Linked DNA regions of Homo sapiens. The protein of the gene in region 1 purifies or fractionates together with the protein of each later gene. This does not show direct contact. Each region holds a gene or a part of one and is shown in the gene's direction. Other genes may lie near its edges. The genes, in order: PYCR2, NUDT5, MYO1F and MYO18A.

The links.
Region 2: the proteins of PYCR2 (region 1) and NUDT5 purify together in Homo sapiens (affinity purification with mass spectrometry; 3 studies listed by BioGRID and IntAct, with this or other methods). This does not show direct contact.
Region 3: the proteins of PYCR2 (region 1) and MYO1F purify together in Homo sapiens (affinity purification with mass spectrometry; 2 studies listed by BioGRID and IntAct, with this or other methods). This does not show direct contact.
Region 4: the proteins of PYCR2 (region 1) and MYO18A purify together in Homo sapiens (affinity purification with mass spectrometry; 3 studies listed by BioGRID and IntAct, with this or other methods). This does not show direct contact.

The regions. Positions count from the first base shown.
Region 1 is NC_000001.11:225,921,251-225,928,769, reverse strand, and holds the start of PYCR2 (pyrroline-5-carboxylate reductase 2), read left to right. Parts: upstream 1-4,519; 5' UTR 4,520-4,659; coding exon 4,660-4,726; intron 4,727-4,998; coding exon 4,999-5,069; intron 5,070-6,386; coding exon 6,387-6,566; intron 6,567-6,627; exon of another isoform or gene 6,628-6,690; coding exon 6,691-6,912; intron 6,913-7,125; coding exon 7,126-7,218; intron 7,219-7,398; coding exon 7,399-7,519. UniProt on the Homo sapiens protein: Oxidoreductase that catalyzes the last step in proline biosynthesis, which corresponds to the reduction of pyrroline-5-carboxylate to L-proline using NAD(P)H. At physiologic concentrations, has higher specific activity in the presence of NADH.
Region 2 is NC_000010.11:12,192,892-12,200,300, reverse strand, and holds the start of NUDT5 (ADP-sugar pyrophosphatase), read left to right. Parts: upstream 1-4,409; 5' UTR 4,410-4,531; intron 4,532-7,409. Other genes in the region: CDC123 (translation initiation factor eIF2 assembly protein), read right to left, coding at 1,525-1,596, 3,982-4,055. UniProt on the Homo sapiens protein: Enzyme that can either act as an ADP-sugar pyrophosphatase in absence of diphosphate or catalyze the synthesis of ATP in presence of diphosphate.
Region 3 is NC_000019.10:8,567,406-8,574,491, reverse strand, and holds part of MYO1F (unconventional myosin-If), read left to right. Parts: intron 1-7,086. UniProt on the Homo sapiens protein: Myosins are actin-based motor molecules with ATPase activity. Unconventional myosins serve in intracellular movements. Their highly divergent tails are presumed to bind to membranous compartments, which would be moved relative to actin filaments.
Region 4 is NC_000017.11:29,072,383-29,079,468, reverse strand, and holds part of MYO18A (unconventional myosin-XVIIIa), read left to right. Parts: intron 1-4,554; coding exon 4,555-4,699; 3' UTR 4,700-7,086.

The DNA.
Region 1 (7,519 bases):
AAAGAATGCAAAAATGCACTCAAAAATGCGCCTCTTTGGAGAGGCTCCTAGGACAGGGAGGATTGAGGGCCAAGGCACTTGCCATCTGTTTATCTGGGAGCAGCACAGGCTTCTCTCTCATTTCCTAGGTCATCTCAGTTCTTAGGAGAGACTGGCCTGCTGTTTAGAGATAGGAGAGACTGGCCTGCTGTTTAGAGGGAGGCCCTGAGGCCCTGATAGTGAAGAAGCAGAAGTAGACAGAAGTGAAGCAGTATCCATTTTGTCTGAGACAGCTGGAGAGGGCCATCAGGCAGGACAGAGGGGAGTGAAGAGGGAGGAAGGGTACAAACAGCAGAACCTGACTGGTGGATGAGAGGATGGGAGTAGAGGGGTGAAGGTGGGCAGTCCTGGCAGCTTTGTGGACGTGTCTGCTCCGAGACAGCAAAAGGATAGTGGGTGCCCAAGGAGACAAGTGCCAGCAGGGACTGAGCATGTCCCATGGCAGGATGGCAGTGCAAGGCTGGGGTGTCCTTTAGGGTGGCTGGATGGGAACGAAGGGCTTCCCCTCTCCTCTCCTCAACTTCAGTTCAGAGGAACTCCACAGGCATCAGATGTGACTGCCTTAGAAACCAAGGCAGTGGCCACAGCACCAAGGAAATGGGACGTTAGAGTCAGCAAGGTCATTAAAAGAGAATAAAATGGTCTTACCTATATTTAAAATAGGTAACAGGCTGGGTGCGGTGGCTCATGCCTGTAATCCTAACACTGGGAGGCCAAGGAGGGAGGATTGCTTGAGGTCAAGAGTTCAAGATCAACCTAGACTAACATAGTGAGACCCCGTCTCTATTTTATATATATATTTTATATATACATATATTTGGGTTTTTTTTGTTTTCTTACTTTGTTTTTATTTTTTGTTGTTTTCTTTTCTCTTTTGCTCTTTTTTATTTCCATCTTATATTTTTAAAAAATAAAATATAATAGATTTTGTATATATAAACTTTAAACTTTGGAGATGAAAAAATAATAGATCAAAACTACCACAAAAAAGAACAGTTTGTGGTCAGTGGCTCACTTGCTGCCCTAAGTCCAAACTGAGGGGAGCAAGTGCTTTTGCTACTCCGTGTCTTATGTGGCCAGTCCTGGCTGGGGATGAAGCCAACACTGGGGGTCACCAACATGGCCTCTTTTTTTTTTTTTTTTTTTTTTTTAGACAGAGTCTCACACTGTCACTCAGCCTGGAGTGCAGTGGCACAATCTTGGCTCACTGCAATCTCCACCTCCCAGGTTCAAGCAATTCCCCTGTCTCAGCCTCCTGAGTAGCTGAGATTATAGGTGCCCGCCACCACATCCGGCTAATTTTTTGTATTTTTAGTAGAGATGGGGTTTCACCATGTTGGCCAGGCTGGTCTCGAACTCCTGACCTCAGGTGGTCCATTCGCCTCAGCCTCCCAAAGTTCTGGGATTACAGGTGTGAGCCACCGCACCCGGCCATCCTTTCTTAGGCTTTTGCAGTTCTCCCATTTCACCCTGGCTCCCGGAAGCGGAAACGGGAGATATCAACGCAAGGCAACCAGGTAAGGGATGGGTGTATGTAAGGGGTCAGAAAGGAGTGAGACACAAGTGTCCCCCACACCTCACTCCAAAACACACATTCAGCTTCAGCACAACCTCCTGTATTGCAGGTCAGATCCAGAGCTCCCCACAACAGACCACAGCCAGGAAAAGCAAAGGGCCCTGCAGTGCCCTGGTGGACTATGGGGAGGGTGAGTATCCTGCAGAGGAGCAGGCAGCATTAGGAAGTTGTGAAGGAGGGTAAACCCCCAACTTCCTCACTACCTGACAAAGACTCCTCTACAACAAAAGGGAGGCCAAATGCAGGCAAACAGAAATGAGACAAAGAGAAGAGGGGAAGTGCTGGCAGCGCAGTGTTCTAGTTCCATTCCTGAGGTCCTGCTCTCTGTAGGTGCCCCTTCTGGTCTGTGAGCTCCCCTGTGCCTCTCCCAAGCGCTGTACAGAAGCCCCCCTTTTCCTTCAGCCAGTTTGGTTTCTGCTGGGTTTCTGGTTTCAGAGCTTTACGCTGGTAACCATTAGGCTATGCTGCAACATGGCAGCTATGGGAGCTCTTAAAGCCCCAAACCACTGGACCTTACAAATCTCACTTCTGGGAGTCATGTTAAGAAAATAATGAGTCAGGCAAAGATTTTATCACAATAATATGAACAAAAATTTAAAAAATTGAAGGCCAGGAGTGGTGGCTCATGTCTGTGATCCCAGCACTTTGGGAGGCTGAGGCGGGTGGATCACCTGAGGTCAGGAGTTGGAGACCAGCCTGGCCAACATGGTGAAACCCCATCTCTACTAAAAATACAAAAATTGGCCAGGCGTGGTGACACATGCCTGTAATCCCAGGTACTCGGAAGGCTGAGACAGGAGAATCGCTTGAACCCGGGAGATGGAGGTTGCAGTGAGCCGAGATCATGCCACTTCACTCCAGCCTGGGTAACAAAGACTCCGTCTCAAAAATAAATAAATAAATAAAAATAAGAAATAATAATAAATTGATGTTTTATGAGGACAGGAACTTGTCTGTTTTGTTCATAGCTATACTCCCAGAACCTGGCTCAGTAAGTTATCTATTATATAAATCAATAAACCTAACATTGACCTTTGAATGGTTAAATCAGTAAGGTACATACATATAATAAGTAGTCATTAAAACTGTCTTAAATAACTTTTCAGTGACATTGGAAAATGCTCATGTCTACTAGAGAAATTTCAAAACTACATGTACATCATTTATTTCCAATGATGGAGAAAGTAGATATGCATAGGACATGATAGTGTAAGGAAATACACCAAAAATGTTTGTAAGAAACTATCTTTGGGAAGTATGATGTGGATGATTTTATTTTTACTTTTATCTCCAAACTTTCTTCAATATGTCTGTATTACTTTTCGAATTTAAAAAATACAGAGGCCAGGTGCTGTGGCTCACGCCTGTAATCCCAGCACTTTGGGAGGCTGAGACAGGCAGATCACCTCAGGTCGGGAGTTCAAGATCAGCCTGACCAACATGGAGAAACCCTGTCTCTACTAAAAATACAAAAAATTAGCCGGGCGTGGTGGCGCATGCCTGTAATCCCAGCTACTCAGGAGGCTGAAGCAGGAGAATCGCTTGAACCCGGGAGGTGGAGGTTGCAGTGAGCCGAGATCGTGCCATTGCACTCCAGCCTGGGCAACAAGAGCGAAACTCTGTCTCAATAAATAAATAAATAAATAAATAAATAAAACATAGCATTATTTTGCTTAATAGTAAATATTATATTTGGTCCTCACTTTAAAGGGTGCACAAACTGAGGGCCTGGGGACTTGCTCAGGGAAGTTCACAGAAAGCAGCCCCTTGCCTGGGAGTGGGGGTGTGCATTACACGGAAAGGACTAGAAAAGCTAGCAGAGAGACCATGGGAACTAAGGGTCCTCAGCTCTTCTGAGTCCTCTAGGAACGCCACCTTCTTCCTCTCTACTTCTGTCATTTGTTCCCTGCGGCCCCTTATATTTACTACTGATAGAAAAGGAAACATCACATTGGTGGAGCTTTTAAAAGCAAGAGACAGGTCGGGCGCGGTGGCTCACGCTTATAATCCCAGCACTTTGGGAGGCCGAGGCGGGCGGATAACCTGATGTCAGGAGTTGAAGACCAGCCTGAACAACATGGTGAAACCCCGTCTCTACTAAAAATACAAAAATTATCCGGTCGTGGTAGCGGGCGCCTGTAATCCCAGCTACTGGGGAGGCTGAGGCAGGAGAATCGCTTGAACCCGGGAGGCGGAGATTGCAGTGAGCCGAGATCGTGCCACTGCACTCCATCCTGGGCAACAAGAGTGAAACTCCGTCTCAAAAAAAAAAAGGCAAGTGACAGCAAGGGGCTGGGGGGTGCGGGATCGCGGAAGAGTCGGAGACTCGAACTTGTCCTTCTTGTATCTAGTTTGGACAAATTCGCGAGAAACACTCAAGTTCAAGTGAATAAGCCGCGGCTGACCACCCTGGTGCCGCCTCGCCGCCACCTGGTCTGAACCTCGCCGCCACCTGGTCTGAACCTACGCCAGGAGGGCCTCGTTCATCCCCGCAAATCGGCAACCTGGAGAATTCCTGTGGGCCTTGAGGGGCATCTGATGGCCAGCGCCAGAAATAATATTAGCCAGGCCTGGGCCAGGCCTCAGCCCTGAGCCCGAGGTGGCTTAGGGACGGCGACCTCAGCCTTGGGGTGGGGGGGGGGGGTGGGGGCGGCCGGGCGTCCTGGGCCGGCGGGCGCCTGGAGCTCACGCCAAGCTGCCACAGGGGCTTCCGGGACTCCAGCCCGGAGTTCCGCCCTCCAGTCGCGAGCGGAGGAGGCGGGCACGCGGCCTGGCTCGGGCCGCGGATTGGCCTGCCCCGAGATCCTGGCCACTGATTGGTCGCCCGGACGGGGCGGGGCCACGTGGCCTAAGGCGCCATCAGCCGCCCGGGAGATATCCGCCGGGGGAGAATAGGGTTGCACCATCCCAGAAGCTGCTGTTAGCTCGCCGGTCCTCGGCACGCCGCCCGTTCGCCCCTGCGCTGTCCGCCCTTCCCCTAGCGTTACTTCCGGTCCCTCGCTGAGGGGGTTCGTGCGGCTCCCAGGAGGCGTGAACCGCGGACCATGAGCGTGGGCTTCATCGGGGCCGGCCAGCTGGCCTATGCTCTGGCGCGGGGCTTCACGGCCGCAGGCAAGCGCGTGGAGGCGGGAGGCGGCTTCGCGGGCGGTCCCGAGGCCCGAGGGGGCCTCCGTCCCACCAGCATGAGCGAATGAAAGGGGAGTTTGCGTCCGGTGGGGTAGATGAGACTCTGGTTGAGCAGCAAGTGCGTCTTCTGTCCTCGTAGAGGGTTGAGGGGGAGAGGGAGACTGGCACTGTTAGGACGGCTCTGGGTTTTAGAGCCAGGGAAAGCGTGGTAACGGGCTGGGCCGCGACCCCTAGTTGAAAAGCTCTGTCTTCTGCAGGCATCCTGTCGGCTCACAAGATAATAGCCAGCTCCCCAGAAATGAACCTGCCCACGGTGTCCGCGCTCAGGGTAGGTGGAGCCGGGCGGAGTGGGAAGCGGGTGGAGGCCCAGGAAAAGGATGACCTGAGATGAAGTGAGTCTGGCCGGCCCCTGCGCCCAAGTGCTGGTCTTTGGCCGGCGGTGACCTTTACTCCAGGAACGTGACAATCTTTCCACCTTCTCTTGGGCAGCTCAATGTGGTGGGAACACCCAGGGAGACATAACTGGGGGTCAGATCCAGACACTGGAGTGGTAGAGGATTAACTGAGGTGATTATGTGATGAAAGCACCTGGCACATAGTAGGTACCTAATAAATACTCATTTTTTAAATTTTTTTTCAGACAGGGTCTTACTCTGTCGCCCAAGCTGGAGTGCAGTGGCGCGATCTCAGCTCACTGTAACCTCCGCCTCCCACCTCAGCCTCCCACCTCAGCCTCCCGAGTAGCTGGAATTACAGGCATCCACCACGCGCAGCTAATTTTTGTATTTTTGGTAGAGAATACTGTTGGCCAGGCTGGTCTCGAACTCCTGGCCTCAAGTGATCTGCCCGCCTTGGCCTCCCAAAGTGCTGGGATTACAGGGGTGAGCCACTGCGCTCAGCCATTTTTCTTAATAGACGAGTTGTATGACCTTAAAGTACTCAGCCACTTTGAGGCTATTTCCTCATTTACAACAGTGGCCACTTTGCTGTTATTCTGAGTCGTGAATGAGCATATTGGGAAGAATCTGGTGAGTTAGTTGTTCTGTTCTCCAAAAACATATTCCAAGTCTTCACCCAAAACCTGTGCTCTGTGGGAGAGGATGGCTGATGAGGCAGGTGACAGGCAGTGTCTGTGCCTAGGGTGGGCTGATGTCCCTAGCACTGGAGGGTCCTGCTTCTCAGTTTGGAGTCATAGAGGGATGGATGGCTTCCAGCCTAGCCCTGGACCACATGGAGACTGTGCGGTCCCCACGAACAAGCGGCCAGGGTTAGGATAGGGCCTGACTCAGCTGTGCTTTTAACGACCAGGTATTAGCATTTCCCTTTGCCCTGCCACTTTCACCATAGGGCCTTCTTACCTGGCAGAGGAGTGCCTTAGATACCAGAAGATTGGCAGGGAAGAAGGGCAGCCACTTCCTGGTTACCATGGAGAAGCTTGTCATGCTCCAAGCCTGTGCTTACTTGTCCAGTAGCAACAATGGGAAACTGTATTATTTGGGGTAGGGGTAGAACCCTGAGGGCATAAAGCTAAGAATTCCAGGCTGCATCTGGCAGAATCGGTTTGGCAGGGGTTCAGCTGCTCCCTGGGAGGCCTTGGCATAGCCAGGCTGCTCCAGCACTGTGAGCTGGGAGTCTCCTCTTGCAGAAGATGGGTGTGAACCTGACACGCAGCAACAAGGAGACGGTGAAGCACAGCGACGTCCTGTTTCTGGCTGTGAAGCCACATATCATCCCCTTCATCCTGGATGAGATTGGGGCCGACGTGCAAGCCAGACACATCGTGGTCTCCTGTGCGGCTGGTGTCACCATCAGCTCTGTGGAGAAGGTGCCCATCTCAGCCCTGATGCCCCTTGTGTGAGGGGAGGGTTGACCCACGAATGGCAGCTAATGGGTGGGTGCTGGTGGGAGCCGTGCCCTGGCCACTCATTCGGCTCTCTCCCTCACCCTAGAAGCTGATGGCATTCCAGCCAGCCCCCAAAGTGATTCGCTGCATGACCAACACACCTGTGGTAGTGCAGGAAGGCGCTACAGTGTACGCCACGGGCACCCATGCCCTGGTGGAGGATGGGCAGCTCCTGGAGCAGCTCATGAGCAGCGTGGGCTTCTGCACTGAGGTGGAAGAGGACCTCATCGATGCCGTCACGGGGCTCAGTGGCAGCGGGCCTGCCTATGTGAGGCCCTCATTTGCTCGCTCAGCCTTCTAGGAACCCAGGCAGCAAGATGGGCTGGCAGGCAGGCTTGGACTGGGGGTGGCGCCCACCTCTTGGGCACAGCTGGCTGGTACAGGATGCTGACCCTTGGAGCTAGTTCTAGTCATCAGAAAGCAGACCTAAGGAAAGGCCCTTCAGTGCCTATGGCCTGGGGCTTAGTGAGTGTCTCCACAGGCATTCATGGCTCTGGACGCATTGGCTGATGGTGGGGTGAAGATGGGTTTGCCACGGCGCCTGGCAATCCAACTCGGGGCCCAGGCTTTGCTGGTCAGTATCTTTCCCCCGCATGTTCAGGACCAGGGTGTAGAATGGGGGTTCTTGTGCATCACTGAACTGAGGTGGGAGTTGGTTGGGAAGCTGGGGTAGCAGTTGGGCAGGAGCAGTGGGTATGGGAAGCCTGTTCCAACGCACACCAGCAACTTTCTCCTAATGTGCCCTTCCCCATAGGGAGCTGCCAAGATGCTGCTGGACTCGGAGCAGCATCCATGCCAGCTTAAGGACAATGTCTGCTCCCCTGGGGGAGCCACCATCCACGCCCTGCACTTTCTAGAGAGTGGGGGCTTCCGCT
Region 2 (7,409 bases), on another chromosome or scaffold:
ACAAAAATTAGCTGGATGTGGTGGCGCACACCTGTTGTCCCAGCTAGTTGGGAGGCTGTAGCAAGAAAATCACTTGAACCTGGGAGGCAGAGATTGCAGTGAGCTGAGATTGAGCCACTGCACTCCAGCCTGGCTGACAGAGCAAGACTCCATCTTTAAAAAAAAAAAAAAAAAAAAAAATGCCGAGTGCGGTGGCTCAGGCCTATAATCCCAGCACTTTGGGAGGCCGAGGCAGCCAGATCACGAGGTCAGGAGATCAAGACCATCCTGGCTAAGACAGTAAAACCCCATCTCTACTAAAAATAAAAAAAATTAGCCAGGCGTGGTGGTGGGCGCCTGTAGTCCCAGCTACTTGGAGGCTGAGGCAGGAGAATAGCGTGAACCCGGGAGGCAGACCTTGAAGTGAGCTGAGATCACGCCACTGCACTCCAGCCTGGGTGACAGAGCGAGACTCTGTCTCAAAAGAAAAACAAAACAAAAAAAATTATATCTGTAAATATCCTAAAGTTGAGACTTATCTGACTTTCCTACTGTTTCCTCAGCCTCAAATTATTCAAAGTTAATGAGGCGCTACATTAATAATTTTCAGGTTATTGAGGCTCTGTGAATACCAAAAACAGAAATATAATCCAGAAAACCACACTAAAAACCCAACAGGCAAAAATATGGGGTCCAGTTAGTAGTACTGAAAACACACAATTCTTACTGTATTTCTATAGTTCCTTCATCCAACAAATGTTTATCAAGCACTTCTGCTATATCAGGCACTGTTCCATGAGCTGGGGTGAACAAATGGGCCAAGTCCCTGTTTTCATGAAACTGCATTCTAATGGAACAATTAACAATTGTCAGGTGGAAGTAAGTGTTATGCAGAAAAATGAAGGGAGGTCAGGGCATAGGGTTACTGTCAGGCTATTTTAGAAAGGCTGGTGAGGGCTGAACACTCATAACGTGACTTCTGAGCAGACTCGAATTAAAAAATGAGAACTTCACTAAATCCTATGATTCTTCAACGTTTTCAAGTTTGCATCCAAAAGACTGAAACACAGTAACTTCTTCCCTTTATTCTATAAATAGGGAAACTACCTGAACAGCTTCTAGAAAGTGGAGGGGGGGCCACGGTAGTTCAATCGTGGGGAAGAAAATGTTGAGGAATTAGATGATAAAGCCTGTTTGCAACAGTGAATTTTTAATCGTCAAAACTGAAGGATCTCAAAGAATTTTAATATGTACTTCCCCCACCCTGCTACCGTCAGAAGGAAAAGTTGTCATCATAACTGTTTTCTAAAGACAGAGATGAAAGGAACTGCTCAATTTCACAACTTGTAATTATTAGAGGGAAAAGTACTTAATGTTGAAAATATTAAGTGAACATTGAGAAGGAATATGAGACAAAGATCAGCACATCATTTTGGCTAGGAGAGAAAAAGAGCTAAAGGGAAAGAATGGTGCCTAAGCTAATTCATTCATTTTATGTGTTTCTTTATGATAAAGTTTAAGAAATTTTTTTCTAAAATACTTTACCTTCCTGAAACCACCAGAGTTCCATCATCGAGTAAATAATCCTTCACATTCTGAGGAAGTGGAAGAATGACACTAAAAAAAAAACACCAAAAAAGGCATCATTTTAAAAGACCAACTATAAGCAGAGAGAAAAATCTCTACACTTGATTAATTTTGGAATTGTCTTTCTTTTAATATAAAGTAGAAAATGTTAATGATGTACATTTGGTAGCAGTAGACAAGAAATCAGAATAATAAGATTACTGCGGTTCATCTTATTGCCACAATGGTCTTTGTAGTAAACAAAAACCAGCCAAATCCAAACCACCAGATGGAAATCACAGTATGAAAGCAACAAGCTCAAAAGGATTCTGAGTGAGCACAACATTTATGTGTCTTTAAGAAATCAGAGACCAGCAGATATTTGCTGCAACACAGGAAATGCAGCAAACCCAACTAGAAGATGACTAGCATTTGGTCACCTTCTAAAGATAGAGGGCAGAAGTAGAGTCAAGATCTGGAAACCATTCTTGGGTTGGCAGTGAGCACCTACCGCTAAGAATTCATGATACTTTTGGATGTGTCTTGCTGGCTTTCTATTCAACTGATCACCAGAGATATAAAGCTGCTTAAACTAGGCATGCTTTAGCTTAATTTGTTTCAGGTAATCATAATTAAGGATGGCAAAGCCATACCTGAAGTCTCTTAAAAACTTATGGGATAATTTGTTTTTTACCTTGAAATAATAAATTATCAAAAAGCCCTACCACAGATCCCTAAGAGTGCTGGTATTATTTTGATTTTGAGGCATATACATCTTCAAAAAGTGGAAAAGATTACAGCCTGCTTTCCCGAAGTTAACAGAACATCAATGACTTATAACATGTCTCATTTATTTATGGAAGAAGTTTTTTTTGGCACATTACAAATGGTTTTTTTGCACAAAAAAGAGTATTCATGGGCTACTTCGGTTTTAAAAATAAGTATTTTTATTTATTTTTAAATAAATAAAAGATCACTGCCACTGCACTCCAGCTTGGGCGACAGAGCAAAAACTTCGGTTTTAAAAATAAATATTTGATTTATCAAAGGTACAATTTCACATTCAAAAATCTAGTTCTGGCCGGGCGCGGTGGCTCACACCTGTAATCCCAGCACTTTGGGAGGCCGAGGCGGGCGGATCACGAGGTCAGGCAATCGAGACCATCCTGGCTAACACGGTGAAAACCCCGCCTCTACTAAAAATACAAAAAATTAGCCGGGGGTGGTGGCGGGCGCCTGTAGTCCCAGCTACTCAGGAAGCTGAGGCAGGAGAATGGCGTGAACTCGGGAAGGGAAGCTTGCAGTGAGCCAAGATCGCTGCCACTGCACTCCAGCTTGGGCGACAGAACAAAACTCTGTCTCAAAAAAAAAAAATCTAGTTCTTCAGGCTTTTAATTTCTTCTAACAAATCTTATTACGTTTGAAAATCTACTAAATTTTAAACAATTTCAAGCGAAACTTTGCAACTTAAAAGTCTCTTTAAAATTTTAAATTCTATTCATAAACCACTCAATTTTCTTTCTTAATATGTCTATTTGCTGATTACAAATAAGCCTTCCTAAGTATTTTACTCTTACAAAGCTAACAAGCGAAATTGTTAAGTACAATGAATCTAAGGTTCTACCACACATTCCAATACTATTTAAGAACTTGAAACTTTTCTTATACATTTTAACCATTCTAAGCCAGTTACACATTTTCAAGTACATATCCGATCTTTATTGAATGAAACCATCATATAATGAATCAGCAATTACTGAAATGTTGGCTCAGAAAATCAGTTAAGTGCAAAGCCCAGATTTTCTATCAACGCCTTTAAAAAAACTGAGAGATGAAATTGTATATATTAATACTTGCCGCCTACCTGATGTTTTTAAGTATATATACACTGTGGAATAAATTTAGCTAACAAATGCATTGCCTAACATAGTTATTTTTGTGGTGAGAACACTAACATCCACTCTCCGTTTTTCAAGAATACGTATATCGTCATTAACTATAGCCTCCATGCTGTACGACATATCTGTGAACTTGTTCTCGTATCTAACTGTAATTACGTATCCTTTCACCTTCCCAATCTCCATCCTCTGGGGTGATGGCGAAAAGCAATTAATTCTCCGAGTGCACTTAGGCAGTGATCACCTTGCGCCTGGGGCCATTCTAAAAGTAGTGGTGGTGAACTCCCAAGCCTAAACTAGGTTAATCCACTATTCCTCCCGCCTCCGACCCTCACTGAAAACCACAACTGACCCTCCTAGCCAGCACACTCGCTGGCTCGCAACAGGACGCAGACAATTGCTGATGTACTTCCCTCTCGACACACTCCCTCCCATGCAGTCGCTAGAAGGCCTGCATTTTTTTGGATAGCAGTAAGATTCGCTCAGAAGTCGCAGTTCCCTTTTGCCGGTCGACCGGGCGAACCCCCTCCCATCTCACCTCTTGATGGTAACGCCTCGGAAGAACGGGTACCACGCGGAGAACTGGCAGTGAAGCACATGCTCCTTCTTCATCCTCCAGCTGCCGCCGCTGCTGCCTTTCCCTCTCCTGCCTGCACCCTCCCGGAACTCTGGGCGCCGGCCCCGGAAGTGCCCGCCGAGCTATTTTGGTTCAAGGACTCTTCCGGTCCCTAAAGCAAGAAGGAAGACCGAGAAAAGGAAGCGGAGGAGAATCCCGGGGCATACGCTTGACACACACGCATACAAAAAGAGCTTTAGTCTCGAAAGAGGAATTACCGAAGTGTCGAGAGAGGAATTTTAAGAAGTTTACAACTCCGTCTTCGCCCTAAACGCACGCTGACCCGGAAAGTAATCTCCTGAAGCTAGGTCAAAGGCGGGGGTTCTACGGATGCCGGAAGGAGGGTGCGCGCCCATCCTTTTAGCACCGCGAGAGGCGCCGGTGTTTCGAGCCGTGGCACCGGCATCGGCTGACACTGCTGCCTCCAGCTAGTTATTTCGTCCTCTTCCGTTCTTCACCCCTACACCTTGGAGTAAGTAACCGGGGCAAGCCAGTCACAGCACAAAACCTCTTTGGGGAGGAGAAGAAGAAGGGGAAAGGGACCACATCTGCATGGTGCGTGCAGCCGCGCGGTGTCTCCCAGGCTGCGGCTGGGCACGCGTCCAGGCGCCCAAGAGGGAAACTGGGGATTGGAGGGAAATTGTGGATTGGAGAGGAAGAGCCTGGGCTACTCCGAGTAAAGAAAGCGGGGAACACCACAGCTAAGTGTTAGTTCCAGTGTAAAGATTGCAGCATCTGCAGAGGAGTAGAATGCTTGGTAGAGGGAATACCGCCTGTACGATCCTGGAGGGTTCGACTTTGGGAGGTAAAAGGCGAGAGGTAAATGTGAGAAAGCAGAGGAAAGAGGAGTCTCCTTGGAGCGCTGAATTCGTTTAGTCTGGCCTCGCAAAAGTTGTCAACCTGGAAAAAACGCAGATTTTTATCAGTATTCCTGCGATGATCGAATCATAAGACTGGAAGAATTCGAATCGAACTTGTACTATCGTTTTTTCCTTTGCTTCACTCCTGTCACCCAGCAAAGTTCAGTTTTGTTTGTTTCGTTAAAAGAATGAGAAGTAACTAGCTGCTTTTATTTATTTATTTGAGACGGAGTCTCACTCTGTGCCCAGATTGGAGTGCAGTGGCGCAATCTTGGCTCACTGCAACCTCCGCCTCCTGGGTTTAAGTGATTCTCCTGCCTTAGCTTCTCGAGTAGCTGAGAGCGCGCGCGCGCCACTACGCCGGCTAATTTTTGTGTTTTTAGTAGAGACGGCGTTTCACCATATTTGCCAGGCTGGTCTCGAACTCCTAACCTTAGGTGATCTGCCCGCCTCAGCCTCCCAAAGTGCTGGGTTTACAAGGCGTGAGCCACGGCCCCGGGCCTACCAACCAGCCGCTTTTAACCCCTAGTCGTGTCGCTTACCACACGAGCTTTAGGCTTGCGCGAGGCATCTGCGTCTAAAAGTATCTCCTTAAATGTACATTCTTCCTGGTTCACCTAAGTAGTTTTAAATTAGAAACAGCCCCACCGACTGCAGGCCTCTTCAGAAGGGTGTTCCTTAGAATAATAAACAATTATCTGCGTATTTTGAGTTAGAAACTCTTCCCCCCAGGAATATATACATTGTTTTGGGTTGTGTTTTGTTTTTCTCAAAAATGTTACTGGCTAAGTGGCTAGTTGGAAGCAGTGCTTTAAAGAATACATTTTCAAAGCAGAGGTAAATAGATTATAATGTTGCAGAGTATGTTGGTGGGGATGGACAGTCATGATTCATCATTTATGCCTTGATCCGGAACTATGCAGTCCTTTCTGATTTGAGGGAAAGAAGCAATATTGTATATATGTCTGGAGGGTGGTGCCAGAAAGACTTAATGGCAGACAGGAGCAGTCGCTCAAATAATTGTTTTGATTTGACTTAGAAAGTAAAAAATTGCGCGGAAGGAGATGTTAGCATCGATGGGGGATTTATTTAGGTCAGATGTTTTCTAATGAAGATAGGAATGAATGTACGGAAGAGAATAGATCCCGGGAACATAGCCCTTCTGCGAGGAGCAGTACTTTAACAGCCCAAGAAACATTTGAGCATAGGCCGGGCGCGGTGCCTCATGCCTGTGATCCCAGCACTCTGGGAGGCCGAGGCGGGCGCATCACCTGAGGTCAGGAGTTTGACCAGCCTGTCCAACATGGCGAAACCCCGTCCCTACTAAAATATCAAAAATTAGCCGGGCGTGTTGGCGCATGCCTGTAGTCCCAGCTACTCGGGAGGCTGAGGCAGGAGAATCGCTTGAATCCGGGAGGCGGAGGTTGCGATGAGCCGAGATCGCGCCACTGCACTCCAGCCTGGCAACAGAGCGAGACTCTTTTTTTTCCGTCTCGGGAAAAAAAAAAAAAAGAGTGTAGAGATTAAGGCAGTTGCAAAGCTTTAATATAGAATTGCAGTTGTGTGTAGAAAAGCAGCTAAGTTTGTAAGCTTAAATATATAGATACTACAGGGAAGGAATTTTTATAGATACCTTTTATTCAGGCAGTATACTTTAGAAGTGTGTTCAATGACTTTTTGGTATTACAGTTGGTTTTAAGTAACTTGTTACACATTTAACCAGCATCAAATAAATTGACATTATACATAGGAGATGCTCAAATACTTTGAATGGATACAGCTAAATGAGGGTTCACTGTATTTTAACCACCGTGGTTGTCTTCACTAAGCCATGAAGTCATTGTATTCATCAAGTTTCTCCAATAAAACCTTTCAACAGTGGAAATATTTGCTTTTTCTCCTGCATGCTGAAAAGTCAGTAGTCATGTGATTATGGGGGAGGAGATTTATTGTGCAATTCCTAATGAAGTAATGAAAAAACACATTTCTTTCTCTGAATCCATAGCATGACTAATCATCCTAGATTAAGATTTTCACCTGTCTGCTGGTTTTCTTCATCTGGATGTCTGCTATCACCTCAAACAAGCGTGTACAGATTTGAGCTCTGCATCACCCCTTTTTTCTTCCGATGTCCCAGTCTCCCTTAAAACTGTCTTCGTGGAAATTAAATGTCACTTTGCCACGGCTACCACTCTACTCCAGACCTGTCATCTCCTGCCTGGACTATCTTTACAGTGTCGTTACTATACGTCTGTAACCAATTCACCTTCCCAAGGGTCATTACAGTCAGTTCACTCTTGCTCAACCAGCATTAAATGTGAGGATTTTAAACCACCTGCTAAATGATTCCTGGAGATCACCAAGTAGCATAATTTCAGTAAACGTTAATTACTCCCTGCCCACCCAACTGCCACACCTGAAGAGAATGAAAAAAAAACCCATAAGTGAATTCAATTGTGGGTACCCAAATTTTTTACCATAAATGGCACA
Region 3 (7,086 bases), on another chromosome or scaffold:
TCTAATGCCCCGCTCCATGGTCCATGGAAAAATTGTCTTCCATTAAACCGGTCTCTGGTGCCAAAAATGTTGGGGACCATTGCTTTACAGAGCACATAACATGCACTTGATCCATGGTAGCTGCCATTAGCTGGGATGTCCATTCATTTCTGGATTCAGCAATGAGGATGGACGGAGGTGACGATTGTGGTAATTGGGGAGGAGTTGCTGCGAGTGGTCATTGCTGGGTTGTTGGTGTCATTGGTTGTGGTGGTGGTTGTGGCTGTTTCTTGTTGCAGGTTCGTGGTGATAATGGCTCTTGCAGGTGGGCTGGTGGTGGTGGCGGTTGGTGTTTAATGTTGTTCGTTGGTGGTGGATTGTTTTCAGCTGGAAATTCTGGAGATGCTTGGTGACCAGTGGAATGATGACCATCGGTGGTTGCTGTTATTTGGAGAGGAAAGGTGTTGGTAGTAGCGTTCATTTGCTGCTGGTAGTTTATTGTTGGTTTCTGGTAAGATGATGATCAGCAATGGTGGTGCTGGTTCAATGTTGGGTTTTGAACAGGATAGGACTGGTGACTGCTGCTTTCTGTGGTTGCTAATGGTAGTTGGTTATGTGTGGTTGTTGATGGCTAGTATTGTTTTTTTGTTTTGTTTTGTTTCTGAGACAGAGTCTCGCTCTGTCACCCCGGCTGGAGTGCAGTGGTGCAATCTCGGCTCACTGCAACCTCCACCTCCTGGCTTCAAGCAATTCTCGTGCCTCAGCCTCCCAAGTAGCTGAGATTACAAGCACCTGCCACCACACCCAGCTAATTTTTGTGCTTTTAGTGGAGACGGGGTTTCGCCATGTTGGCCAGGCTGGTCTCCAACTCCTAACCTCAAGTGATCCACCCGCTTTGGCCTCCCAAAGTGTGAGATTACAGGTGTGAGCCACTGTGCCTGGCCGATGACTAGATGGTGGTTGGTTATTATAGCGTGGTGGTGGTGGTGGTGGTGATCGTGGGAGAATGTAAGGAAGGCTGATGCTGGAATTGCTCATGGGACCTGTCTGACATTGGCTAGTCATGATGGTATTGGAGTTATCAGCAGTTTCTGTTTGTCTTTGAGAAGGGTAGGAGAGAGAGTGAAGACGTTCACTGGTTGCCTTTGGTTGGTGATGGTGGTCATGTGAGGATAATAGTGATTGTCTCTTCTTTTTTTTTTGAGACAGAGTCTCGCTCTGTCACCCAGGATGGAGTGCAGTGGCATGATCTTGGCTCACTGCAAGCCCCACCTCCTAGGTTCATGCCATTCTCCTGCCTCAGCCTCCCGAGTAGCTGGGACTACAGGCGCCCGCCACCATGCCTGGCTAATTTTTTTCTATTTTTTTAGTAGAGATGGGGTTTCACCGTGTTAGCAAGGATGGTCTCGATCTCCTGACCTCGTGATCTGCCCGCCTCAGCCTCCCAAAGTGCTGGGATTATAGGCGTGAGCCACCACACCTGGCCAATAGTGATTGTTTCTAAGGTACAGTCACAGGGCCAGGAACAATGGCTCATGCCTGTAATCCCAACAGTTTGGAAGACGGAGGTGGGAGGATCACTTGAGGCCAGATGTTCGAGACCAGCCTGGGAGACATGGCAATACCCCATCTCTACAAAGCATTTAAAAGTTAGCCAGGCATGGTGGCATGGACCTGTAGTACCAGCTAATTGGGAAGCTGAGGTGGGAAGATCACTTGAGCCCAGGAGTTCCAGGCTGCAGTGAGCTGTGATGGCCCCACTGCACTCCAGCCTGAGCAACAGAGACAGACTCTGTTTCTAAACAAATAAATAAGATACAGCCACAAAGCAGGGAGACCAGTGAAGTGGCTGCTGGGTCCAGAATCAGTGGCCATGAGGATGGACAGGAAAGGCTGGGAGTCAAAAGGAATTTAGGAGAAAGAATCAGTTAAGACCACTAACTGGGCACGGGCACAGTGGCTCACACCTGTAATCCCAGCACTTTAGGAGGCCGAGGCAGGTGGATCACTTGAGGTCAGGTGTTCGAGACCAGTCTGGCCACCATGGTGAAACCCCATCTCTACTAAAAATACAAAAATTAGCCAAGCGGGGTGGCATGTGCCTGTAATCCCAGCTACTCAGGAGGCTGAGGCAGCAGAATCGCTTGAACCCGAGAGGCAGAGGTTGCAGTGAGCTGAGATCGCACCACTACACTCCAGCTTGGGCAACAGAGCGAGACTCTGTCTCAGAGGGGAAAAAAAAATGCCCATAATTGATTGGATGCAAAGAGTGAACGTAACAATGAATCAGAGACAGGCAGGTTTCTGTCTTGGGGGTTGGGGACCACATCCCAGAGGATCTTCCCCAAAAAGCAGGAGGGACAAGACCAGGGTTCCCCAGCTCCAGCTTCTGCGTGGAGATGTTTGAGACGGTAGCCACCGACTGTCAGCAATCTCCAGCGACGAGACAAAGAGCCCAGCTCCAGAAAGACAAGGGTCCCCACGTATAAAGGCCAGGCGCGGTGGCTTACGCCTGTAATCCCAATACTTTAGGAGGCCGAGGCGTGCGGATCACGAAGTCAGGAGATCGAGACCATCCTGGCTAACACAGTGAAACCCCGTCTCTAAAAATACAGGGGCTGGGCGCGGTGGCTTACACCTATAATCCCAGCACTTTGGGAGGCCGAGGCGGGCAGATCATGAGGTCAGGAGATCGAGACCATCCTGGCTAACATGGTGAAACCCCGTCTCTACTAAAAATACAAAAAATTACCCAGGCGTGGTGGCGGGTGCCTGTAGTCCCAGCTACTTGGGAGGCTGAGGCAGAAGAATGGCGTGAACTCGGGAGGCAGAGCTTGCAGTGAGCCGAGATGGCGCCACTGCACTCCAGCCTGGGTGAGAGAGCAAGACTCCGTCTCAAAACAATAAAAATACAAAAATACAAAAAAAAAATTAGCCGGGCGCGGTGGCGGGCGCCTGTAGTCCCAGCTACTCGGGAGGCTGAGGCAGGAGAATCGCTTGAACCCAGGAGGTGGAGGTTGCAGTGAGCCGAGATCATGCCACTGCACTCCAGCCTGGGCAACAGAGTGAGATTCCATCTAAAAAAAAAAAAGAGAGAGAGAGAGAAAAGAAAAGAAACAGAGTCCAGTCCCCCTGCTCCCCTGAGGGATGGAGCCTTTGGAGGTGAGAATGTTGTTTGCACAGTGCATGGACGCAGGGTGTGGCCCCAGAGCCCCACTGAGCTGGGGGCAAGGCTCCAGGGCCACCCTCAGGCACCAGGGCAGGGTCTGGGAGCTGAGAGCTGGCTCCAGAAGCAGCTACGGAGGCTTAGCTCTCCTCCCGGCAACCACAGCTCGCAGGACCTGGGTGAGGAAGGAAGTGGCTGTTTGTTTGCTGTCTTCAATCTAGAGCTCTTGCTCATCACGCCCAGAAAAAGCAGACAGCCTGGAGCCCATGGGGTGAGTTGCAAAAGCTCCCTCCTCCAGCCCTTCCTCCTGGCCAGCTCATGGCCACCATTGATGGGGACAGTGAGGAACGCTAGCATTTACACTGGACAACCTTTGCTTCGTTGAATCTGCAGAGCAGCCTGTGAGATTTGCACCCCTCGATGTTCCCATTTTCCGAATGAGGAAACTGAGGCAGAGAGGTTAGGTGAGCTGCCCAATCTAAAATGAAAGAGGATTTTGACTCAGTGACTCCCAAGGCCACACTATTAACAGCCATCTTGGCCGGGCACAGCGGCTTGCACCTGTAATTCCAGCGCTTTGGGAGGCCAAGGCAAGAGGATCAGCAGTCCAGGAGTTTGAGACCAGCCTAAGCAACATAGTTAGACTTTGTCTCTATTTAAAAAAAAAAAAATGTGGTTGGGTGCGGTGGCTCATCCCAGTGCCCGTCATTCCAGCACTTTGGGAGGTCAAGGCGGGCAGATCACTTGGGGTCAGGAGTTCAAGACCAGCCTGGCCAACGTGGTGAAACCCTGTCTCTACTAAAAACACAAAAATTAGCCAGGTGTGGTGGCGTGCACCTGTAATCCCAGCTACTCAGGAGGCTAAGGCAGGAGAATTGCTTGAACCTGGGAGGCAGAGGTTGAGCCAAGGTCATGCCACTGCACTCACAGACTGAGCAACAAGAGCGAGACTCCATCTCAAATAAAAAAAAAAATGTGGCTGGGTGCAGTGGCTCACGCCTATAATCCCAGCACTTTGGGAGGCCGAGATGAGTGGATTGCCTGAGGTCAGGAGTTCGAGACCAGCCTGGCCAACATGATGAAACCTGGTCTCTACTAAAAATACAAAAATTAGCCAGGCGTTGTGCACGCCTGTAATCCCAGCTACTTGGGAGGCTGAGGCAGGAGAATCACTTGAACCTGGGAGGCAGAGGTTGCAGTAAGCCTAGATCATGCCGCTGCACTCCAGCCTGAACAACAGAGCAAGACTCCATCTCAAAAAAAAAAAAATGTATTAGCCAGGCGTGGTAGTATGCACCTGTGGTCCCAGCTACTCAGGAGGCTGAGGCAGGAGGATTCGCTTGAGCCTGGGAGGTCAAGGCTGCAGTGATATCAAACCACTGCCTTCCAACCTGGGCAACAGAACAAGACTCTGTCCAAAAAAAATAACAGGCACCTTGACCACAGCCTCCTGTCCTCCTAAGCAATGAGAGGCCAGCAGGACTATGTGCTGACCCCACATGGCCTGGGCTGTCTATCCCTCCAGGACCATGACCCTCCATTCCAAACAGACTAGAATCCTGGTGTCCACCACACACCCAAGGCCTCTCTGGCTGATGTCTCTTGCAGCCACCACTGATGCTGCCTGGAAAGTTCATGTTGCAAGACGTGCCTTCTACAGGAAGCCCTCTCACCTCTCCACAGTACTTTCCAGCCATGGTCTCCTCTGGGCAACTGAGACACCACTTGGGGAACACCGAGCCCCCCAAGGGCAGGTTCTGGGCCTGGTCCACCTAAGCCTGGTCTCCACCTACCTCCATGCACAGTAGGGGCCCAGGAAGTGTGTTCCCTCCATGGCACACATCCCCCAGCCCCATAGGCACCATCACCTTCACCACAAACAGCCCCTCCCTGGTGTGATACCAGGAAGGTTGTCCCCGCCTGCCCTAGTTCTGCCTTCAGCCTTGGGGTAGAGAGACCTCTCTGAAGAGCTGAAGGAAGAAGCTACCCGTCCTTCCTACCCCACCCACCTCAAGCCCCTGACTGCCTTTCACAAGAGCTCCAGCAGGTTGAGTCATATTCAGCTTGTGGTCAACTGTGACCACAAGCTCTTCGTTGCATCCCCACCCCCAAGGAAGAGACTTACAAACAAACAGTTTTGACTTGACCCATGGAGACTTGGAGGCCACAGAATGAGAGAGATATCTGGGAGACAGGGCAGGGGGCAGTCTCATCCCAATAGGACTTCATTCATTCATTCATTCATTCAACAAGTATGTATTGACCAGGCTTTCTGTCCAACACTGATGCCTTAAATCCTCTCAAGGTCACAGATGACATTTCCTGAGGCATCTCGGCGCATTTTTTCTCTTTGTTCGCTCCTGTACTTGTTTCAGAGACCCCACACAAGGGTCATTATGGAATCCATTTGGTTATTTGTTGTTGTTGAGATGGAGTCTCGCTCTGTTGCCCAGGCTGGAGTGCAATGACGTAATCTTGGCTCACTGCAACCTCCACCTCCTAGGTTCAAGCAATTCCCCTGCCTCAGCCTCCCGGATAGCTAAGACTACAGACACCCGCCACCACGCCGGGCTAATTTTTGTATTTTTAGTAGAGATGAGGTTTCACCATGTTGGCCAGGCTGGTCTTGAACTCCTGACCTCAAGTGATCTGCCTGCCTCGCCTCCAAAAGTGCTGGGATTACAGGCGTGAGCCACCATGCGCGGCCAAATCCACTTGCAAAGAGGAGAAACTGAGGCTTGGAGAAGAGAAGTGACCTCCCCAGAGTCACACAGTCAGTCAACTGTCAAGCCAGGCTTTGACCCCAATCCATCACATGCCAAAATTCTCGACTATCCTCCCCACACGATATTCACTTGAGCAAAACCCTCTCTCCCTTCGATGCAAACAGCCTGTGATTAATTTTTTTTTTTTTTTTTTTTTTTGAGACGGAGTCTCACTCTTTCACCCAGGCCGGACTGCAGTGGCACCATCTCAGCTCACTGCAAGCTCCGCCTCCCAGGTTCACGCCATTCTCCTGCCTCAGCCTCCCGAGGAGCTGGGACTACGGGCGCCCGCCACCGCACCTGGCTAATTTTTTGTAGTTTTAGTAGAGACGGGGTTTCACCGTGTTAGCCAGGATAGTCTCGATCTCCTGACCTCGTGATCCACCCACCTCGGCCTCCCAAAGTGCTGGGATCACAGGTGTGAGCCACCGTGCCCGGCCCAGCCTGTGATTTTACAGGTGGCTGGAGCATGGAGTGTCTGAGGGCCTCTAGTGCCTGGGGCAGGATAGAGAGGGAGAGAATGGTCAGAGAAGAGGGCCACTCTGCCAGATGAGGAAAGAGGGGAAGGGCAGGAAGAGGAACCAAGTCGTCAGAGCCGGGAGAGCCAGGAGGGCTGATGGGCCTAGCCAGACACAGCTGACCCCAGTGAGGGGAAGTGGCCTGGGGTCTTAGTTCAGCCTGAGTGGCCTGGCAGGCTGAAGCCTGCACTGGCCCCCAAAGGGGAAATTGTAGACATGACCCATCTTCTCCCCAACCCATCCTCATCTGACCTCAGCAGCAACCCCGGCGATCTCTGATACAGACCAGCCTGGGGAAGGACAGCTTCGTGGGTCCTCCCCAAGGTCCTCTCTGCACTGCTGTGTGTCCTTGAAGAGGACACTTAACCTCTCTGTGCTGTAGTTTTCTCTTCTATAAAATGGACCCAGGATGGGTGCGGTGGCTCACGCCTATAATCCCAGCACTTTGCGAGGCCGAGGTGGGAGGATCACCTGAGGTTGGGAGTTCGAGATGAGCGTGCCCAACGCGGTAAAACCTTGTCTCTACTAAAAATACAAAAATCAGCCAGGCGCCTGTAATCCCAGCTACTCAAGAGGCTGAGGCAGGAGAATCGCTTGAACCCAGGAGGTGGAGGTTGCAGTGAGCTGAGATCGTGCCACTGCACTCCAGCCTGGGTGC
Region 4 (7,086 bases), on another chromosome or scaffold:
TGTCCTTCATACCTTCCACACTTTAGTCACTTATCCCTCACAGTAACTCCGTAACAAAGTCTGATTAGCTCTGTTTCATAGAAGATGAAGCTGAGGCTTGGAGAGGTTAAGTCACTTGCCATGTGGTCACGCACAGCTGGGAAGGGTTGTTGCCAGGGTCTGAATGGGGTCTGCCCAACTCCAGCACTCTTGCCCTTACCCACTCCTCCAGGCAGCCAGTGCAGAGCACATGGGCAACATGTTTACTGTGTGTGCCCAGCAGCACCCATTCAGGAGCTTTCATTCATGGCCCCAACAGGCTGGGGCCAGGAAAGGTCCCAAGCTATACCCCAGCTGTGGTTGGTGCACATCAGTGGCCCTAAGCTATTATTGGGCCTTTTGCTTAGCTCTCCCTCCCCTACCCTGCCCCCACAAAGCTACCTTCCTCTCTGGCATAGATCTCAAGCCTAGGAGTACAAGGCTCCCAGGGCTACAGCCCACACAGCGCCACACCCTACAGCAGACCCAGGAGATGCCTGACTCCCTCCCCAGCCCTCCCACCAAAGGCCCACACATGGGCGTCACCTTGGTTCTACTCATCTTGTAAAGTTCTAATGAATAGAAATTAGCAACTGCTGAGTGACAGCCTCCCCCTGGCTCTCCTGCCTCCCCCAGCTCTTCTCCCTGTGGGGAGGGAGATCTAGCAGTTAGGCCCTTTATGCCCACACCCCCACCATGGAAGAAGGGCAGAGCCTGACTCATTGGAATCCCATTGTTGCCAGTTTCTCTGGTGCGTGGTGACATTTTAGATCACCCTGCTTATGTGAAGCTGTTTTTGGCATGCTGCCCTCCCAGGGCAAGCTTGCTGCTTCCCAGGAGGTATGTCCCCCGAGTGCAGCCCCTGGGGCACAGACATTTGTCTCCCAGATGCATGAACTAACACACCTGTCGCATGCTTGTGCTGTGGAGCGGCTGGACACCTAGGCTGACTTTGAATGGATTATACCAAACGGACTGATGTAAGACCTTTTAAGGAATGGAGCAAGTGGAATGGCTCAGCCCTGCTCTGTCACTTCCCCCATGCAGCAGATGGTTACTGGGTGCTCTGGGAGGAACAGGAAGCATCTCTGTTGTACCAAGGAACCAGTGTTGGCTCCATAGTAAGACAAGAGTCAGCCGAGCATGGTTATTCACACCTGTAATCCCAGCACTTTGGGAGGCTGAGGCAGACAGATCACCTGAGGTTAGGAGTTGAGACCAGCCTGGCCAAGATGGTGAAACCCCGTCTCTACTAAAAATACAAAAATTAGCTGGGCGTGGTGGCGCATGCCTATAGTCCCAGCTACTTGGGAGGCAGAGGCAGGAGAATCGCTTGAACCCGGGAGGCTCGGAGGTTGCAATGAACCGAGATCGCACCACTGCACTCCAGCCTGGGCTACAGAGCGAGACTCCATCTCAAAAAATATATATATATATGAGTCAATATTTGATCAGGCATCTCAGCCTTCCTCTTAGCAGCCCTGCTAAGTGCCCCACACCCCTAGGGCAGGAAGTCAGCTGATGGACCTGGGAGAGGGGTTTGGAAAGCAAAGAGGGCCAGGCCTTGTTGCACACTGCGCCTCTACCCCCAGATGGACATGGGCCTAAAGCTGGGCCATCCCACACTGACTGGCAACTGGCAGATTTCAGACCCCAATGCCCTCAGCCCACCATCACCCTTGACCCCACAACCAGCAATAACAAAAAGACCAAAAGCCTGTTTCTTCCACCAGCCACCAGCGCAGTTCCTCTTTTCCACCAGGAAAGCTGGAGTAGTCCTGACGCCATATATACCACCCGCTCCAAGGAGGATTGGATTCACTGTTGGTAGAGTGGCCATCAAGCCAGAACCTAGCCAACCAACACGGAGCCAGAGGGAGAAGGCCAGGGGAGGGAGGACCTCAGTGGTGCTCAGCATCAACTGGCTTTGGGGTGGGGGCATGGGATGGAGCAGTCACTTAGCTTCCCATCTGGTGATGAGGACCAGCAAGAATTTGCAACAGGAACGCAGCTTCCATAGCAAAGTCAAGGGGAGGGGAGCTGCCGCCCTGGGCTTGCCTGGCAGGAATTAGCTTATGTACCAAATTGTTTGTGACAGTGCTGAGCAGGAGACGCTGGCTTGTGAGGAGGAAGGCTTTTTTAAACAATTTGGTTAAAATGTTCAAATTGCCAGCTCTGACTCTTGCCCTGGAGAGGAGGGCAGCGGCCTGCTGTTGACTCCCTGATGGCTGGAGCAGTGGAAGCCACTAAGAATGGCTAAAGATCACCCAAGCTACGGGCAAGGGCAATCTCGTGGGTCCGCAGCCCAAGGCAGAGAGAGACATGGAGTTTACCACCTCCCCGGCAGCTCCTGCCACTGCCCAGCGTCTTGATGAAACAGTATGGAAACACGGCTGTCATTTATCCAGGTGTCTGCCTAGCAGGTACAGGAATGTGGGCTTGGGGACTGGAGCCCCCACCTTAAAAAGAGGTGAGGCAATGGAAAGGACCAGAGGGGCCCTGATTCAGCAATTTACAGTGCCTTGGAGCTCGCCAGCAGCACCTCATTTGCATCTGGATTCCAGCCCTGGCATCTGCCTCGCCCCGCTCTGCTCACAAAGTAACCCCACTGTCTTTCCACAAAGCCAGGCACTCCTTAGCCTAACGGCAGATCCTAGCCCTGAGTGCCCAGAAATTCTATGTAAAGAATGAGAACCAAACCAGGCTCCCACTAATTTAGAATTCAAACAACCCCAAAGCTAAAATAACCCCAATTTTTTTCTATATTGCATAGTCATCAGTGAGCTTTATAATTTTGTCCTAGAAACCCCCCCAGAGTCCCTAAGTGCCTTTGGCCTATCAAAGTAAGACTCATTTATGTTCAGTCTAGTTTGTGTTAAATGTGTTTTGTGCTATCCTGATTCCTTTAAAAATGGTAATTCATTCATGAGAAATACGATAACTATTAACCAGACTGCCCCATTCCTGAACCATTTTGCATAATTGAACATGTATTCTATCAGCCTCTTCCTTTCCCCCAGGGATAGAGACCGACCTTTCTTTACATAACCCCTGGGCACTTGCCCAAGCCAGCAGGAGAATTCAGGTTTGGTCCTTTTTTTTTTTTTTTTTTTTTAATCTCAGGTCAACCAATCGAGTGGCGGGGTGAAGTCGTCCAAAGTCTTTGAGGTCTAAGAGTCCCAGATTCAAGTTTACATACTGGCTGTGTGGCCTTGGGGAAGATCCTTTCATCTCTTTGGACTGGCTTCCTCGTAATATTTCATAGGGTTATTGTGAAGAGTAAGATAGCCTATCTCACATGCCTAGGCCGTGTCTTACACATAGGAGTACTCAGTGACCAAATCTTGCCCTCTGCATCTCTCACTGCCACCTTGGGAAAAGCTAAGAAGGTGGTTCTTGCCGCAGAACGCTGACTCCTCCTATTTTGGTTTGGGGATAGAACTTTAAAAGGGCTAGTAAACAAAGGTCCCTTTTCAGCTTAAGTCAGAATTATAGGCAGCAGGGAACATGGAACTCCTGCTTGCCCAAGTTGGAACTCTAGGATCTGGAGGCAGGGCTGCAGCTCCAGGGACCACGCCGAGTGTGGGGCATCAGTAGGAGAGGAGCCACACTGGGCTGTGTTTTCTCCAATGGTGTTGAAACGAGAGTGCACTTGAACTGACGGAGGCAGTGGAGGCAGGAGGAGTACGGGAAAGGTGGCCCCAAGGCTTTGGGAGAAAGAAAAGAGAAGGTGAATGGAGCTGTGAGATGAGGTCCCCTCTTCCCTGTTCAGTGCTGTGATCCTGCTCCATCAGGGGGAAGAGGCCTCTTCACATCTGGGATAGCTGGAGGCCTCCAGAGCCAGAGGCCTGATGAAGACTCTGAGTTATGTTATTGTACCAAGAAAGGGGCTTTTCCCCTTGGGCCATCCTAAAACAGGTCTTCCCAGCCTCTCCTTCCTGAGCCTCCATTTCTTGTTAGTAGATGATGGCATGGTCAAAGCTGAAAATTCTCACAGGCCTCAGGGAGCCATCATTAGGGGAAAGGGTTCAGATCTGGGAGTATTTGACAGGGAAAGCGCCTCCTCCTCAGAAGGAATCTTTTTAGGAATCACTCGCCTAAGAGAGCCCCTACCCTAGACAAGTTGTACTCACCAGACCTCCAGTCTCCAAGCCAATGTGGTTCACGGACTGCCTGCTTCAGAGCCTTCTGGGGAAGGACTGAAAATGCAGAATTACTGGGTTGTACCCAAAAGCCAGCGATTCAAGGTTTCTAAGAGGAAGGGCCCAGGAACCTGCATCAGATTCTTATGCACGCTTGAGTCCGAGACTCACTGCTCTCAGCATCCCTTTCCTCGGAGCTTTAAAAGCTTCCAGAGTCTCCTTCCTCTTAGCATTTTGAGTATCTTCTAAGTAAGCCAAGGAAGGTTTTTACTTAACAATGTTTGGCTTTTGGGGAGTGCTCTGACGCAGCTTTGTGGGCCTCCAGAACCAAAGGCGTGCGTGCTTAATGGTAGGAGTGTCATTTGTCCCTAACCTTATTCCTCGGTCCCTGCAGCCCCACCAGCTACTGGAAGTCCCTTGCCCCTGATCGGTCAGATGATGAGCACGACCCTCTCGACAACACCTCCAGACCGCGATACTCCCACAGTTATCTGAGTGACAGCGACACAGAGGCCAAGCTGACGGAGACTAACGCATAGCCCAGGGGAGTGGTTGGCAGCCCTCTCACCCCAGGGCCTGTGGCTGCCTGGGCACCTCTCCCAGGAAGTGGTGGGGCACCGGTCTCCCCCACCCGACTGCTGATCTGCATGGGAAACACCCTGACCTTCTTCTGTCAGGGGCACTTTCCAGGCTATGGGTGTCTGATGTCTCCACGTGGAAGAGGTGGGGGAAAGAGGAGTTTCTGAAGAGAACTTTTTGCTCCTCTGTCTCAAAATGCCAGACTCTTGGCTTCTACCCTGTGTCACCGTGGGCAGTGGCAGGTGGCCTGGCACTGCATGGAGCCAGCACGTTGACCTCCCTCTCAGCTCCCTGCTCAGGGACGGTGGACAGGTTGCCTACTGGGACACTCTAGGTTGCTGGGTCCATGGGGAGGATTGGGGGAGGAGAAGCAGTGCCTTCCCTCTCGTGTGGGGTGGGGGCTCTCTCTTCTTGGTGCCTGCTGTCTTTCTACTTTTTAATTTAAATACCCAACCTCTCCATCACAGCTGCATCCCTGAGAGTGGGAGGGGGCTGTAGTGGTAGCTGGGGCTCCCAAGAACGACTCGGGAATGTCATCTCCATCTTCACCCTTCAGAGAGCAGTCCTTTCTCTGTGCAGCTGGAGACGCTGGTGAGGAGAGCCGGGTCCAGGTTCTTAAGAATGAGGTGCGGAGGGGCTCTCCGGTGCTGCTGGGCTGGGTTGAGCAAGCCTACGCAGACAAGTGTGTGTGTGGACCATCCGCACCTCCAGCCCCCACCCCACCCTCTTTGTCTCAGCGTGTTATGTGCAATGACCTATTTAAGGTAAACCCATTCCAACTACAGCAGTTCAGGGCTGATCCAAGCACTGCCTCCCTCCTGCTCTGTCCAGGTGGTCTGGACCATAAACTCAACTTGAGAGGGAAGGCTTGGGGTTGAGGACTTGTGATCAGAAAAACTGAAGATGGAAGTTTTGGCCGGTGCTCATTAGACATGAGTCCTCACTCTGTGTCCTGAGCCCGTGTCATTCTTCCAACCTCCCTGCCCCCACACACTTATCCCAGACACAACACCATGTGGTCTGGAGGTCCCAGCCCCCACCCTAAAAAGGTTATCCCTGAGAACTCCACCAGACTTGGGAGCCCAAGTGCAGTGCCTGGTGCTGCTCCCATCTGCCGCCCCCCTTCTCTCCTGCAATTGGTTTGTACTCACTGGGCTGTGCTCTCCCCTGTTTACCCGATGTATGGAAATAAAGGCCCTTTTCCTCCTGGCTGCGCCAGTTTTCCTGCCTGTTCCTTCAGGCTCAGGCAAAGTCTGGATTGGTCCTGGGGGTGGTGGGCAGAGGCAGGATTCTGATGGGGACCGTGAGGGCATCACCCTGGTCTCTGGCCTGCTCCCCAAAGTGTCAGACCAGTGCCACTTAAAGAGCCTAGGCAGCTCATTTTGGGGCAGGCAGAGGTAGTGGAATGAGGGGATTGGCCAAGGAAGACACAAGCCCCACCTTTTATGTGAAGAGCCTAGGGACTGTGATTCAGGTTAGCAAGGGTGGCAGAGACTCCAAGCCTCATCCTCCCTAGCCTCCACAAGGGAATGTTGAGGTCCCTCTGATTGTTAAATCTCACCAATTACAGAGATTCTCTTCTCTTCTCTTCTCTTCCTCCTTCCGTCCCTCCCTCTCTCCCTCTCTCTCTCTCTTTCTTTCTTTCATTCTCTTTCTTTTTGGATTCAAGCCCTTCTCATTAGAACATTTTTTAAAAGCTTAATTTTAGCCATTTCAAAGGTGACTTTTTGATCAAAACTTGGCAGAACTAGCTCGGGCCCACAGGGCAATGTGAATAGGTTGGGAGTGCTGTCTCTGCCCTGCTCGGTCCCTGTCTTCATGCCCTACTCCATGCTTTGTTCCTTCATTGACAGCTAAGAGGCAGCTCATGCAGAAAGGCAAGAAACAAATGACACCCCTCCTCCTCTTCTACCTTCTACCTTCTCATTCTGTAGTGTGGCCAGTTATAATCCCTGAATGAATAAAGTAGTTTGGACAGATGGGTGGGAAAAAATAGCAAACAGCCCAAGTGCCGAGGCTCTGATAATGTCAGCCATCCAGAAAGAGTCCAAAAGGGAAGAAGGGAGAAAAGTCTCCCCCAAAATGAATGGGACAGAGTGTGAAGTGGATCTGTCTCGAACAGAGACTGCCCCCTCCATTGCCCCACGATAGAACAGAGAAGAGGATAGAAACAATAGTAAAAGGGAAGTTACTTGTCTTTTGGAGACAGAGTCTTGCTATGTCGCCCAAGCTGGAATGCAGTGGCATGATCTCAACTCACTGCAACCTCTACCTCCCGAGGTTCAAGCGATTCTCCTGCCTAAACCCTCCGAGTAGCTGGGACTTAACAGACGTGTACCACCACGCC